Linked DNA regions of Homo sapiens: region 1 is linked to region 2. The links come from fine-mapping of genetic effects on gene expression. A gene starts in region 2. The other region holds a variant in brackets. All regions are shown on one strand. Distances are between the middles of the regions. Region 1 overlaps SMG1 (SMG1 nonsense mediated mRNA decay associated PI3K related kinase). Region 2 holds the start of ARL6IP1 (ARL6 interacting reticulophagy regulator 1).

Evidence for each region.
Region 1: its variant is fine-mapped to the expression of ARL6IP1 in whole blood (INTERVAL, PIP above 0.99).

What each region holds. Positions count from the first base shown.
Region 1 is chr16:18,897,330-18,902,329 of GRCh38, forward strand. All of the region lies in intron 1 of SMG1 (SMG1 nonsense mediated mRNA decay associated PI3K related kinase), which reads right to left. Among named protein-coding and RNA genes, the nearest start is that of SMG1-DT, 26 kb to the right of the region's middle. The variant C/A (reference allele first, on the strand shown) is at 2,590.
Region 2 is chr16:18,798,626-18,804,154 of GRCh38, forward strand. It overlaps ARL6IP1 (ARL6 interacting reticulophagy regulator 1), which reads right to left and starts at 2,924. Exons shown (of 6, transcript NM_015161.3): 1 at 2,806-2,924; 2 at 76-209. The coding sequence starts at 2,841. RefSeq lists enhancers at 2,428-2,547, 2,768-2,847, 3,228-3,467.

The DNA of each region.
Region 1 (5,000 bases), 98 kb after region 2:
TTCTAAATTCTCCCCCATGGAGAGGGTTAATCAGTCAAAAAATTTCAGCCTTTCCTGTCATAAAAATAAAAAACACTGGCAGCATGTCAGGGACGGGCAATGTCTTACCAAGTTATTTTCTAAGTACTGATTAGGTACTGTAGTATTGAAGACCCCATTGCAGATGCCTTAATTGTAAAGAGTAGCAATCAGAATTTTAAAAATTAAAAAAGAAGACATTTTAAGAAAATAAAAGGTATCAGAAATGCAATAAAGTGATATCAGAAAGTTGTAGTTCATAATCTATTTAAAATTCAGGTACTGTTTAGAATAATACCTGATGCTTATTAGTAAACAAGTAGGGTACAGCCAAGGGTAAAAGTGTGTCCTCATCTAAGTATCTGCTCTACGCTTCAACTACCTCATAAGTAAAACAGAGCTGAGTTACAAGACTTCTCATGAGTGTTACTCTTTCAGCCATCAATCATAAACTATCAAGAAAGAAGACAACAAAATAATCTATTATAGCATACGAAAAATCCAAGTAAGTTCTTCCCCTACTGATTTTCTCCTGAGAGGAACAACTTTGAGAAAAAAAAAAAAAAGAAAATCACTTCTATGATATTTACTAAAAATGCTTTCTCAACCTTTTAGAACCTGAATCTTTTAGAAAAGTTTAGGACACTGGCAAGGCCAGACACTAAGCTATTCCTCTATGCTTTGCCCCTCCCTCTATGGTGTAAAAGTGACAGCAGTGTTTGTATACTGTATATATTTCGTTTAGAGTTTATTAGTCTTTCCTTGCTTCCAAAAATACTAAACATAAAACTTAGCATGAGCTCAATCAGTTGGACACCTTGATCTGCACTTACTGCAATCACTGTTAATACAGAATGCAGACAACAGGTCCAATTAAACTTGGATATCTAACTGGTACAAGTCATTACTTATAAAGGATCTCAATCTGAAACTTCATGAAATTCAAAACCTAGCATACTAAAATGACTAAGGCTCCATAAGGAGTATCTTCTAATATTCAGAGTTCATTTATTCATAAAGCTAAGTACTTAGAACATAAGGGAAAATAAAATCTATGGAATTTCAAGAAAAATGTATGAGAATATTTTCTGAGTATACTAAGTCTATAAGCATTAAAATATTAACTCAATGGACCATAACTTTTTTAAACTAATGAAAAGACATTCCTTATGTACCTAAAAATAGCACATTTAACATGCATCTATATAAATCATAGCATACGATTACTTTCTGAAAGGAGATTGAAACATAAGAGAGCTTATAATCTTTTCTGACAGAGTTTGAACTTTATATGTATGCCACAGTAAGCTCTTATTAGATGAGCGAATAAAATAAGCACTTGACTAATTCGGAAACACAAAGATAAATGGAGTCTGCCAATATTTAAACATATCTTCACTTCCTGTTTTCATCATGTTTACTTATCTCCTATACTACCTTTACTATTAAGAGTTAAATATTTGTATCACTTTCTGGTGACACAGTAGTACCATAAGGCAGCAGAGAATACAAGTTAAAAAAAGATCTGGGCTCAAATCCCAGCTCCAGCACTGAAAAGTATGTGTGCCTTTGCACAAATTACTTGATCTCCAAGCCTTGGTTGTCTCTTGCATAAAATGAGGATGATACCTACCTAACATGCAAGGTTGTTGTGAGGCTTAAATAAGATAATGAATTATAAAGAAACGCTTAGTTTGCAGGGTATGTTAAAAGTTATTATGACCATAATACAAAATAAACTCAGTTTCCAGTCTAAAAGACAATGTACAAACAGTTCATGAGTATATGAATATAATCAAGACAAGTTTTTACAGTCAATATAGAGCAACTTAAATACTTCACTGAAGAAACCGGGTAATCTGTTGCTACCAACAATGTGTTTCCAACTACGAAGCATCTGATTTCAAACTAAACTGTAAAACCAGGAGCCGCTTCCCCGTTGGTTAGAAATAAGGTTTCTAAATCCCCTAAGTTATGAACACTGAGATTTTTTTCCCAAAAAAAATTTGTGTTTTCAGAAATATAACAAAAAAAAACTAACTGGAATAGAGCCACTGTCTCAGAAATACCTAAAAACTCCCTAGTTGCCAAATTATTTTAATACAAATTGATCAAAGCATCCCCAACCAGAACTCAGGTTGTAAGCATTCTGAACCTAAAAGCACAAAATGCTTTAGCATTTATATGAAATTTCTATTTTTATACAATCTTGACTACTTAGGTTTCAAAAAATGTCAATGTCAGGCTGTTAGCACCAACAAGATCATCCCAGTCCAATAAATAGAAAACTGTTAAAGAACGGAAATGAGCACTTAAAATGAGGCAATCAAAGCCACAAAATAGAAACTGCAGATTTGAACTCCAAGAAGCAGGCATGAATGTTAGGCTAGTTAGTTAGAAGAGCTGAAAGGGATATCATCTGCCAGAATTAGTGTCTCAATTTAGTGAAAAAAGAAAATCTATCTGTTAAGTCTAAGAATCCTAGCAATGATCCAAAAATACCTCTACAGCCCCTTTAATATTCTAAAAATATCATGGAGAGAAAAAAAAAGAAATGCATAAATTTCCCCA[C/A]AACGATCAAACTGAAGTTAAAGCCTGATGTACATGCCACATGAGAGGTAAGTTTCTAAAGCTCATACCTCAAAAATCGCATACTGTATAATATGGAGCCTTTGTGATGTTTTGCATCAAGTCAATCTGTAAGACAGTAGTTACAATATTAGTGAAGACAGTGGGTTAAAACATTTGTTGTTCAAACATGGAGCAAATATCATTCATGAGTTAGGTGCCTTTAGTTGAACTATGGTCCCATTAGGGTTCATACATTAAAGCAAAAATTGAGGTGGAAAGCCACTCTGTGCCTTACAGGATAAAGAGGCTTAATGTGGCAACCAAAAAAATTTTAGTACATAAGAGAATTTAAATGTTAACTGTAACATACAAATCACATGCAAATATAGTTACCACTTATTTTAGCTACCTATTCTCAATATACAGAAAAATGCCACAAATCTAGGAGGCCATTCGTTTCAAATGACCAGAATCCTTAGACCTCACACCAACAATCCACCATGTGCTGGGGATGGTATCGCCTGACTAAATGTAGCCTTGCAGTCCATTCTTGTAAGTATTAGAGAGAAAAAGAGAGAGAGTGTCATCTCTGGAAAGTGTGAAGTCAGGGAATTCCCTACTAGGAAGTATTTCCATAAAGCACCCCAAAATGACTTGATGCAAACACCATACCTAGTGGTGTCACTGGAGTAAGCATCATATTACTTCAAATTGCTTTTACCTAGGTTTATTAAGGGATTTTGCTCTCATGGTGAGATCTAATTTATAATGGATATAAACCAGGAAATGAGATTTGCACTAAAGCCAATGAAGTAGGAATGTACTTATTCTCTAAAGTAGCAAAGATAGTCTCACTGTCACAGAGCAGTTATAGGATATGTTGCTTTCCATACTAATGGTTAATACCACTTGAAAATGATTTACCCTTCAAAAATAAATTCAAGGTTTTCCCCTGTAATGCCTCTTACCTGGATTCAAACATGCTTTAATGAGGAATAAGAGAAAGGGTGAAACTATGAATAACCCTGGGCCTTGTATCATTACATTAAAAACACTGCTCTAAATATGAGTCTATGGCTAAAATATTAATTTGAGAGGCTCAGGGAATTTATTATACAAATCTCTTCTTGCAGAGAACTTTAAGTTCAAATTTAATAGAACCATTCCATGTCAAAATTATAAATGAGTATGCATCAGTTTTGCAATACTGAAATATTAAATTAATATAATTTATCGGTAAAACTAGTTTAACTACCTCAGTATTAAGTGTCTATAATAACCAAATCTTAATTATCCATTTATGGGTGATTTGTTTCCTTTTTTGAGACAGGGTCTCACTCTGTCACCCAGGCTGGAGTGCACTGGCATGACCATAGCTCACTGCAGCCTCGACCTCATGGGTTCAGCCTCTCAAACAGCTGGGACCACAGGTGCATGCCACCCCATTTAGCTAATTTTTTATTTTTATGTTTTTTGTAGAGACAGGTGTCTGATTATGTTGCTCAGGCTGCTCTCAATTTCCTGGACTCAAGCAATCCTCCCACCTCAGCCTCCCAAAATGCTAGGATTAGAAGCATGAGTGACCACATCTGGACTGTCACCAATTTTTAACTGTCTGTCAACTAAACAGCCAATATAGACTGATAAGATATACTTAACTATTGTAAAATTGTAAAGAATTGTATCTTCACCAAGGAGAGGTCTGGCTTTTACCTGTGAATTCTGGAAGGTAATCTCTAAACTCTTGAAATGTCATACCTAATAAGAGGGTCCTGGCCAGAAGCAGTGGCTCACACCTGTAATCCCAGCACTTTGGGAGGCCAAGGCAGGTGGATCGCTTGAGGTCAGGATTTTGAGACCAGCCTGGCCAGCATGGTGAAACCTGTCTCTACTAAAAATACAAAAATTAGCCAGGCATGGTGACGGGCACCTGTAATAATCCCAGCTACTCAGGAGGCTGAGGTTTCAGTGAGCTGAGATCATGCCACTGCACTCCAGCCTGGGCAACAGAGCAAGACTATCTCCAAAAAAAAAAAGGGGGGGGTGGCGGTGGGGGGAAGGTGTCCTTGTTCATCTGGGGGTTTTAGGCCACAGCAGAGTCTAATAATGTGACTTATGGTGGGGGCTTTGAGTCACATGGATCAGCTTGACCTCCAGTGGGGCTGGAGACTAAGGTTAGCCACATGGGCATGCAACCATGGAACCCCAGTAAAAACTTTGGACATAAAAAACAGAGTGAGCTTCCCTGGTAGGCAATAATTCATGAGTATTGTCGCACACCAGTGCCACCAGGAAGGTATCATTTTTCACAACTCTACAGGGACAGGACAATTTGAAACTCCAACATTTGGAACTTCCCCGAACTCTGCCCTATGCACCTCTACCCTTGGCTCATTCTAATCTGAATCCCT
Region 2 (5,529 bases):
ACAAACAGAAGCTATATATTAAAAAGTCTTTATTAATAAGAAGCACAACCCATAGTAATCTAATAGCTCACTTACAGAAACACCAAAGAAACCACACCCATGATGGCAGGTGGAAACCAGGCTCTTTCCCATCGGAGGACTTTATCAGCCATCAGCATCACTTCTCCCCATCCTTGCAGCTGTTCTTCCAGACTTGCAGTCTCTGCAGCCTAAATACCACCGACATTTAAAGTGATCATTTTACCACTCTCAACATTTTTGTGGTTCATAGACTTCAATTATTTTAAAGCTCCAAATACAAAAAATAACCTCTTAACCAAATTGCCAATTTTAAACTAGTTGGTTTCTGAAAAACTGCAATTTCAAAGATGAAAATACAATGGGTTTTTTTGTTTTTTGTGTTTTTTTTTTTGAGACGGAGTCTCGCTCTGTCACCCAGGCTGGAGTGCAGTGGGGAGATCTCGGCTCACTGCAGCCTCCGCCTCCTGGGTTCAAGCGATTCTCCTACCTCATACTCCTGAGTAGTTGGGACTATAGGCGCCCGCCACCACGCCCGACTAATTTTTTGTAGAGACAGGGTTTCACCATGTTGGCCAGGCTGGTCTCAAACTCTGGACCTCAAGTGATCCACTCACCTCGTCTTCCCAAAGTGCTGGGATTACAGGTGTGAGCCACCAGGCCCAGCCTAAATATCCTTTAATGGTCACTTTTCTAGTCCAAGCACTGGGCTATTCTTTATATACATGATGTAACTTAATCCTTACAGAGAGCCACAAGGTAGGGATAATTAGACTCAATTTACAATTAAAGAAAGTGAGCTCAAAATGGTTTACTTTCTCAAAGTCATGCGGGGAATCGTGGCAGTGCCCAGAGTATTAATAAAATGAAATAACTTTTTTTAAGTTTGTTTATTTCAGATGGTTAGAATTGATCCGTTGTTTTTGTCATCTTATTGATTTAAACCCTTCTAAATCCATTAGGAAAGACTTTCCCTGAATAGCATTCAATTTCTAAAATAGCTCTTTGTGTAATGGAATCACTCAGATGTTGACATTCATTGGACAATTAAGGAAAACTACTTTCACCAAATTAAGGTGGCATTTTACGGTCAATATACCTCCTCAATACAGTGTTTCTTACCACTCAGGATGTCATTTTGATTATACTTCAAATTTCTCTGACTCTGAACAGCCGAAAGTGGGCCTCTAGGATGAGCTAATGTGGCAAAAGCCCTTAAAGCTGGTTTTGGTAAAGGAAGAAAAATTTAGAATAAGAAACTCAAGTGTCTCTATGTTATCAGGCTGGATGCAGTGGATCACGCCTGTAAACCCAGCACTTGGCGGGTCGGGGGGGATTGCTTGAGCCCAGGAGATCGGGACCAGCCTGGGCTGAGACCTTGTCTCTTTGTAAAAGTCATTCACTGGAAATCATGCAAATGACAGAACAAGGCACTTAATCTTAACAAAGACGCTCGCTATCTGTGCCACGCTGAGCACTAGTGTGATCTCAATATTTCTGACTTTATATTCCATGCTTAATACTAGTGAAAGAGACTACTATGTGTGGGCACTCTGCTGAGCATTCATATTTATACTTCAATTAATCTTCCTAACAACCCTTAAAAAAAGGTGTTATTACTGTCCCCATTTTACCAAGGAGGAAACAGATACAGAGGTTAACTGATCTGCATCCAAGAAATCCACGACCAAAGGCGTTGCTTTCCTTAGAGTTATATTGCTCTGCTGGAAGGAGAGTTGGGAAGCAGGAGCTCTAGCCCAGGATTTGTCATTTCAACAGGGCTTGAGCTACTTCTCTGTGCTTCAATTAATCCTCTTAAAAAGATCCACGCTGAGAACTAACTATGCTAGAAGGAGCGTGTGTTTAAAGGAACAAACCATGCATTTCTAAAAGCAAATATAAAATCACGCACAATCAAAACTGCCCTGAAGTCACGTCATTGGCCAGCGTCTGGGGTCTTGGAAGTTCAAAAGCCCCTAAGTAAATTCTTTGGTTCCGTTTTTCATTGCTGGTATGTGACCTACAGTCACCAGGGAAGGGCAACTGAGAATATGCAAGGATATTTCTCTTGTTTTTTGCCCACAAGGTGCGCTTAAATTCATAACAAATAAAAATGTGTCCGCCTATGATACCATCTCACTGCAGTTCCTTCGGATCCCTGCTTATTACTCTAAAGCTGTTTCCAGTAGTCCTGTGACCCCACCCCCGCCAGACTTCCAAATTCCAGACAAACGCCAAGACATCCCATTGTCTGTTCAGCTGGACCCCGCTCCCGGTTCCCCACGGTGAGCTCGCAGCCTCCCTGTCGTTTTAAGTTGTACCAGCTCTAAGATAAATTCTGGGCAGTAGCCCTTTGACCCTCCACCCTTGTCCAAGTTTTAGGGGGAAAAGAAGGCAGGCACATCCAGGTTAAGATCAAAGACGGGGAAAGCCGAATACGGCTGGGGCCTGAGCCGCGAAAGCGCTGGACAGGCCCCAGGAGGCCTTCTGCCCCCACCCGCACCCCAGGCTAGTGTCGCAGCCCCTCTGCCTCCCACTTCCTCCTCGACTCCTACTCGCGGTGATGAATCACGCGCCCTCCTCGCCCCGTCGCGCACCGTCCCCAGGAAAGGTAAGGGTTCGACACCCAGGAGTCACCCAAGAAGCCCGAGGGCCAGGCATCGTCGCCTGCCCAGGGAGAGAAGGGCCGGGCCCGCGGCGGGTGACAGGGACGAGGCCGCGGTGTTTGAGCCCACGGACGTCTGGAGGCCTCGCTCGGCTCCCGGGGGACAGGCAGCCAGGACTCACCAGCAGGTTGGTGCTGCGATTATCTCCCTCCGCCATCGTCTCGGGGATGCAGTCTCTACAAGCGCAGGCCACCTCCCCAACGAGTCCTCCAACCGAAACCCGCACACCAACCACAACCCGAGGGAACGCCCCGCAGGCTGCTTATATGGGTCGGCCGCCCTTCCCGACGGCCCCCGCGACGCTCGCTCCTCATTGGACAGACCGAGCTTACGCCTCAAGGAAGCCGGGCCAACCGAAGCTCAGCGCATGGCTTGAAATCGAGGTCAAAGGAGACAGAGGCAGCGCCGGGCCGAGGGGGAGGGGACACGGAGTGCCCAATCAGCGCCCAGGGACTGCGCGACGCCCCGCCCAGCGCTGTGGGAAGCGGTTCAACCGCCTCTGCAGGGGGCGCTGTCCCTCAGTGGTTCTCCGGCTCTTGCCGCTGCGGTGGCTTTGGGTCCCTCTTCGTCTGGCTTTCGCAGCCGAGGAGACTCTCTGGAAAATGGGCTACTCGAAGAGAGATGCTCCGTTGCCTCAGGCGGAGGGCGGGGACGCCGGGCCTGCGACACTTCATCTTTTCCTGGCCCCGAGGTGGCTGGGATCCGTTCCACCTTCGGCCCAGTTCCCCAGCCAGGCCCCTGAGCCGTTTAGCCCGGATTTGCGACCCGTGAGGTTTTGAGGACAAGTGAAAAGAGCTCTTTGTGTGGATTTTGCTGCAATGTTTCTCTCCTACCCAGTAGGAATGAGGCCTTAGCTTGCGCGGAAAAACCCAGGCCTGGTTTGAGAACGTGTGAAAATGCACCGCCTTCTAAGTGGCTTTATTATACGTGGATGTTTAAGTTACTTAAACTACAAGCTCCCTCTCCAAAAGGATTCTTTTTTTTTTTTTCTTTTTTTTTGAGACGGAGTCTCGCTATGTTGCCCAGCCTGGAGTGCAGTGGCGCGATCTTGCTCACTGCAAGCTCTGCCTCCCGGGTTCACGCCATTGTCCTGCCTCAGCCTTCCAAGTAGCTGGGACTACAGGCGTCCGCCAACACGCCTGGCTAATTTTTTGTATTTTTAGTAGAGACGTAGTTTCACCGTGTTAGGATGGTCTCGATCTCCTGACCTCGTGATCCGCCCGCCTCGGCCTCCCAAAGTGCTAGGATTACAGGCGTGAGCCACCGCGCCCGGCCAGAATTGTTTGTTTGTTTGTTTGAGACGAAGGAGTCTCGCGCTCCGTGGCCCCGGCTGAAGTGCAGTGGCGCGATCTCTGCTCACTGTAACCTCCATCTCCCGGGTTCAAGTGATCCTGGCGCGTCAGCCTCCCGAGTAGCTGGAATTACAGACGCCCGTCACTACGCCCGGCTAATTTTTGTATTTTAATAGAGACGGGGTTTCGCTATTTTGGCCAGGGTGGTCTGGACCTCCTGACCTCAAGATATCCGCCCGCCTTAGCCTGCCAAAGTGCTGGGATTACAGGCGTGAGCTACCGCGCCCGGCCAAAAGGATAGTTCTTGACACGACCTTTCTTCCATTAGAGGTCAAGCTAAGAAAATATGTAAACCCTCTCACAAGCAGTAGAATTCCTAGGCAGTTTAGGAACTGTGTTGAGGCACTTGTACATCTTTTCTATCCAGGATTTCAAATGCAGTAACAAGTGCTTTGATCTTTTTTTTTTTTTTTTTTTTTTTTTTTTCTTTTTTTCTTGAGACACAGCCTGGCTCTGTTGCCCAGGCTGTAGTGCAGTAGCCACCGCGCCCGGCCGATTTTTCATCGTTTGATACAAACAGAATCATGCCAAATGTCCGGATCAGATGTTTGTTTCAGGTGAATTAACTATAGTTTTAACTTCCAACCTTTTATCTTTTTTACAGGTTTTAACTTCCAATCTCATGGTCATTTGTATTCGGCCATTGAATTTAAATTTATTTTTAAAATGTTCCTTAAGTAACCACCAGGTTCTTAAATGTTCAAGGAAGTCATAAATGTGAGAGAACATAGCTGCAGACCACATACTGCCCCTAAGAGAGCTGGGCAAGGGCAGGAGCATTGTGAATTTCATGGAAGGGTGTCAATTTGCTGTGGGTCTTTCGGGGAAAGGGGAGTGAAGTATCTGAATCAGGGAGAAGCACTTGAAAAAAAGTCTTTGCAAGGGAAGCTGACTGTTCAATAAAGTGCCACTTTGGAGAATGTTGGGGTAAAGAAGTTGTAAAGGCAGGATACAGCCAGTTGACAGAGACGCTATTTGGAGAGATTTTAAAGCTATGGAGTCTGAGGAGCAGGTTCTTCTCCACGCCCCTAAAAAAAAAAAAATACAAATGGGGAGGCAGGGAAGATCCCTTGAGCCCAGGAAATAGAGGCTGCAGTGAGCTATGATTGCACCTATGCACTTAAGCTTGGGTGACAGAGCAAAAAACCTGTCTCAAAAAAAAAAAAAAAAAAAAAAGTCAAAAAGATCGAAGCAATCAGCAGCCACATAATTAGTGAATATGTTGAGCACTGGGTATGTGATCTTGCTAGACCCACAGTAATAGCCACTTCCAAAAGAGAGGGTATTTTATTAGGGTTTAAAACTGACATTTCTACTTTTGGGAAATCAGCTTTTGCTGCAGAATATGCTTCTTGTTTTCACCCAAGTTTTCCATGCACAACTTAAGACTTGTTAACACCAGCTTGTGAAATGAAGGTAGGTGAAAAAAACAGAAGCAACTGAAACAGCAGTTTCTCCACTTAGTATTTTTTGTTACTTAACAATGTATTCCC